Regions from separate parts of the Homo sapiens genome. Here region 2 is linked to region 1. Evidence: fine-mapped expression QTL. Tissue or cell type: whole blood. Region 1 holds a variant in brackets; the other region holds the start of a gene. All regions are shown on one strand. Distances are between the middles of the regions.

Region 1 (2,756 bases):
TTGACAGCTGCTTTGTTATCTGGTATGACAATTTGTTCTAAGGTCATCTAGTATAATAGGTTTTCGGCCCCAGACTTAGAATCAGCCATTTCTCCAGGGGAAATTGTTTTGAAGATCACGATCTGGACACTAGGTGCACTCATATTAACAGTGGTTTGGGATGGGTGTGGTGGCTCGAGCTTGTAATCCCAGCACTTTGGGAGGCTGAGGCAGGCGGGTCAAGAGATCAAGACCATCCTGGCCAACATGGTGAAACCCTGTCTCTACTAAAAATACAGAAATTAGCTGAGTGTGGTGGTGCGCTCCTTTAGTCTGAGCTACTCAGGAGGCTGAGGCAGGAGAATCGCTTCAACCCGGGAGGCAGAGTTTGCAGTGAGCCGAGATTGCACCACTACACTCCAGCCTGGTGACAGCGCGAGACTCCGTCTAAAAAAAAAAAAAAACAAAACAGTGGTTTGGTGTTTGCTTTTAGGTTTTTCCAGTGTATACTAATTCAGATTCAGGACTAAAAGGTTTTTATTTAGCCTGTTTTGTCATATATTTGTATCTCCTTTTTCCCCACACTGAGGTCCCCGAGTTTCAAGGCCATTGGGGATGATAAACTATTAATTACTGAGTTGCTTTATCTTGCATTGCACATATAACAGTTTCACACTAACAACATTGACACTATCATCAGCAATATGATCATTTAAAATTACTTTTCTTTTTTTTTGAGACAGGGTCTCTGTCTGTTGCCCAGGCTGGAGTGCAGTGGGGCAATCTCAGCTTACTGCAACTTCTGCCTCCCGGGTTCAAGCAATTCTCCTTCCTTAGCCTCCCTAGTAGCTGGGACTACAGGCATGTGCCACCACACCCAGCTAGTTTTTGTATTTTTAGTAGAGAGAGGGTTTCACCATGTTGGCCAGGCTGGTCTGGAACTCCTGATCTCAGGTGATCTGCCCGCCTCTGCCTCCCAGAGTGCTGGGATTACAGGCATGAGCCACTGCGCCCGGCCTAAAGGTACTTTTTTGAGGGGCATATCTGTTTGTCTTTATGGTATATCACACTGAAATGTCAAATTTACTATTTTAATATCAGTAGTTTTTTTCTGTTTCCTGTCATTATATACATATTTAGATTTATTTGATTTTATTTTCAATTTGTTGGTTGCTCTTCTTAGATTTAATTTTGTTTTAATATTTCTGTTAAAGTCATCTTAATAGTGAGATTGACTAGTTATAAAAGGA[A/C]ATAGATGTAAGTAAAATAGACTGGTAACTAGGATACAAATTCTGTAATTTAACATCTCAGAATTGAAAAGTGCATTGTTTGTGTTCCTGCAGTCTGTTCTTTCTTGTGGCTGTTTGGAAGTCTAGATAGGGTGAATTTATGAAATAATTGACTCCTTTCTTTTTTTTTTTTTTTTTGAGACGGAGTCTCGCTCTTTCGCCCAGGCCGGACTGCAGTGGCGCTATCTCGGCTCACTGCAACCTCCGCCTCCTGGGTTCACGCCATACTCCTGCCTCAGCCTCCCAAGTAGCTGGGACTACAGGCGCCCGCCACCGCGCCCGGCTAATTTTTTGTATTTTTAGTAGAGACGGGGTTTCACTGTGTTGGCCAGAATGGTCTCGATCTCCTGACCTCGTGATCCACCCGCCTCGGCCTCCCAAAGTGCTGGGATTACAGGCATGAGCCACCGCGCCCGGCCAATTGACTCCTTTTAATCATGAATTTCATTGACTCTGCTAAATATTTTATTAGAGCTTCTAATGAGTAGCAGTTTGTCTGATTTGAATTTTTCTTCCTCTCTGTTTTTCCCTTTTTTTCCCCTTTGGTTGTTTGAGGATACTAAAAGTGAAATGGTTATCAAAGGGAATTGGTGGACAGGGGTGGAATTATGAATTGAGTGGTCTTTGTATTAAAACATTTGGACTCTAGTGATTCTACTTTTCCATAATTTTTTTTCTTTTGTAAGTGAATTGGTATTTCACTAATTGTTTTCATCCATTGCTAGCCTTCGGATTCTGTGAGTACAAGGAGCCAGAATCTACCCTCCGTGCACTCAGATTATTACATGACCTGCAAATTGGAGAGAAAAAGCTACTCGTTAAAGTTGATGCAAAGACAAAGGCACAGCTGGATGAATGGAAAGCAAAGAAGAAAGCTTCTAATGGGGTATGTTTTCTGTCGTGTTATCTTTTCTAGGCCAGACTGTGCTATTTCAGTGTAGTGCTTCTCATTATAAATGAATCTAATATGGGGCTTCAAAAGATCATCATGTATGTGCTTGTGGCTTAATGTAGGAGGGTATTTTATAGTTTGTAGTTATTTTAAGTCTTATCTGCCCATAGTGGGTGGATGACTGTTGGTTTGCTTGTTCCAGGTTGGGATGAAAGTAGTAAGGGAGGCTGGACAAGGTTAACTTGCCAGAGAAAGCACTGGTACAGACTATTCCAAACAGAGCTAATTCATTAAGGCAGCTTTGTAAGTAAGTACAAAATATATTTCAACCTACACAATTTTTATTAGTTTCCCTCTCTTTTAGAAGTACACCGACTCTAAAATGAATGAAAGTCTGATTACTTGCCTTAGGTTGGGGGCTTTATCCAAGCTCTACTAAGTGAAGCTAAAATAAAGGACATTGTTGTATATTGTATTTTAATGTATACATTATTACCTCCTCAGCAAAGTGAAACATAGCTAAAACTTGAGTATATATTTCCTTCATTTCTCTTCTTAGTTCCTTTTTGGCATCTCATGCTGAACAAATCCAAAAT
Region 2 (2,616 bases), 160 kb before region 1:
GCTATCTCGGCTCACTGCAACCCCCGCCTCCCGGGTTCAAGCAATTCTCCTGCCTCAGCCTCCTGAGTAGCTGGGATTACAGGCGCCCGCCACCACGCCCGGCTAATTTTTTGTATTTTTAGTAGAGTTGGGGGTTTCGCCATGTTGGCCAGGCTGGTCTGGAACTCCTAGCCTCAAGTGATCCACCCGCCTCAACCTCCCAATGTGCTGGGATTTCAGGCGTGAGCCACTGCACCCGGCCTGACTACTCTTTCCCTGGCAATTGCTGCGTCACCAAGCCCCAACCCACCCTGCTGAGTTTTCCTTCCAAGACTCCCCTCCCATCCAGCCGGCTTGAACCGGCCTCCAGTCACGTTGTTTGTTCAGCTAGAATTTTTCTCTGCCTTCTCTTCAAGGCCGCTCAAGCTTCATGAAGCGGTTCTTTATTCTGACTATGCCCACTTCTCTCATTTCCCTCATCACCCGGCCCCGCTCCACATACTGCATTTATCTATAAACTCCTGAGAGCCAGGAGTTTAGCCTGAAATCCTAGCTTCCTGGTTAAGAGCTGAAATGCCTTCGCACGGCGTGCAATGGGTGAACCCCACCGCCTGCTTTCTAACGGGTCCAAGCCGCGGGCAGGGGCCTGTGTTACGGAGCCGCATGACACACCAGGCCTACTGCTGGACCCCAACAAGCCTAGCCTCTGTGAATCCAGCTGTCCTCACAAACTGTCTCTTCGGGACACAAGCCCATCAGAGGCTTCCGTTTTCCTTTCATAAGATCTCATAACCGTCAGCTGATACCTGGGACAGGCACAGCACACATAGGTCATTCTAGAAATATTGGTGGTCTGAACAAACTCTAAGCTGGAGAGGACATGAGAATGATAGATCCGATTCCTTCTCTCAACAGAAGAAATCAAGGCACAGAGAAGGGAAGAGACTCGCCCTAGGTCCCACAGCAAGCAGCAGTACTGGAGCCAACACGGAGGCCCCCCGGTTTCACGGTCAGGGCTCGCTACGCTACACCCTGAACGCAGACCCAGGGCAGCGGCCTCGGCCGCCTGAGGCCACTGCCGAAGACTTCGCCGCCAGTCGTAACATCACGTTACTTCTGTCCCTCGCCTCACAGACTCCTTCGCTCTTTCCACTACAGCGAGAGGACTTCTCCAGGGCCGCATCACCCTGCGGAGGGAGGAAGACACGGTCTCTCACGAAAGGGTCTCCAGACAGTTCCGCTGCTCCGGGAGCAGCCCCCGGCCCCGCCCCCGCGTGCGCCTGGCCCCACCCCCAAGCGCTCCATGACCAGCCTCCACGTGCATCCGCCCCAGACAGGCCAGGCCTGGGAGGAGCCGAAGCCCCACTCCCCGCCTTCTTCATGAGATCGTCCCTATTGACGTCGACAGACAGAAGCCGCGTCCAGTGAGAAGGAAAGAACGGCCGCTATAGCCCTATCGGCTGCTACAACACCAAAACGCATCCACCTAACTGGCTGACGCTACACCTTGGTCTTTCCGGGTCCTTGCACGCTTCGCTCCAACTCCTGCAGAGCTGAGCCGGAGGGGAATCCGGAAGGGACACGCTGAACAGGTAAGACTGTGCTGCCTGGGGTGCCTACTGGCATCGATTCGAGGGCTGCCGCGCTCCCGCTGCAGAGCTCGGGGTGGGAGACAGGCGCGGCGAGGAAGGCCAGGGAAAGGGGCGGGGAGGGGCGGGGAGGAGTGAGCACGTGGAACGCCGGCGCCACCGGGCCTAGGTGGCAGCTGGGCCGGCGCGCTCCGCCCGTTCTGGGGCGCGTGGGGCCCTCCGGCCGGATCAGTGCTGCAACCGTAAACACGCAGGGAGGGCACCCCGAGTGTCGCCGCTGAGGGCGTTTCTCTAAGCGCTTCTCTGAGACCTGCTGCTGAAGGCCCCACCCGACACCTGGCGGGGGCTGGGCTGCGGGCCTTGGGGCGGTGTCCCCTGTGAATGTTCAGGTCAGCATAACAGGTTAGGTGTGGTTGAAGCTTACGAAGTGGCCGGCTCTGTGCTGCCGGCTTCACAGGCGCTAACATTTGCCAGCGCTATGATGTCCTTGTCAGACGCAGAAAGGGGTGCAGTTTGGTTGTCCGTCGGGGTAGCGCACAACTAGCAAGTGATGGGGCCTGGGTTTGGCCCTCGCCTCCACTCTGAGTTGTGAGTTAGCGAGAAAGCCACGCCTCGTGGGCTCCCCGGGGGCTTCAGAAACCATGACGCCTTTCACCATGGTGTTCTACAGGCATTGTCTTGTGACTCCAGCAGCGCAGCCAGAAGCAAAGAAAACTGAGGGGACGGCTTCCTAGAGGAAACAATTCCAAAGTCCCAAACTCTGATTTTAAATAACGATGGAAATTAGAGTCGCGGTGGTGTTCTTTTTTTTTTTTTTTTTTTTTTTTTTTTGAGGCGGAGTCTCGCTGTCGCCCAGGCTGGAGTGCAGTGGCACGATCTCGACTCACTGCAGCCTCCGCCCCCGGGGTTCACGCCATTCTCCTGCCTCAGCTTCCCGCGTAGCTGGGGCTACAGGCGACCACCACCTCGCCCGGCTAATTTTTTGTATTTTTAGTAGAGACGGGGTTTCACCGTGTTAGCCAGGATGGTCTCGATCTCCTGACCTCGT

Evidence for each region. PIP is the estimated chance that this variant, and not a neighbour inherited with it, causes the effect.
Region 2: DCAF4 starts here. The variant in region 1 is fine-mapped to the expression of DCAF4 in whole blood (TOPMed, PIP above 0.99).

Annotation. Positions count from the first base shown.
Region 1 is chr14:73,086,008-73,088,763 of GRCh38, forward strand. RBM25 (RNA binding motif protein 25) reads left to right here. Exons shown (of 19, transcript NM_021239.3): 6 at 1,994-2,154. Among named protein-coding and RNA genes, the nearest start is that of RBM25-AS1, 28 kb to the left of the region's middle. The variant A/C (reference allele first, on the strand shown) is at 1,230.
Region 2 is chr14:72,924,973-72,927,588 of GRCh38, forward strand. It overlaps DCAF4 (DDB1 and CUL4 associated factor 4), which reads left to right and starts at 1,492. Exons shown (of 14, transcript NM_015604.4): 1 at 1,492-1,571. RefSeq lists enhancers at 1-470, 871-970, 1,261-1,530, 2,202-2,616 and a silencer at 1,701-1,760.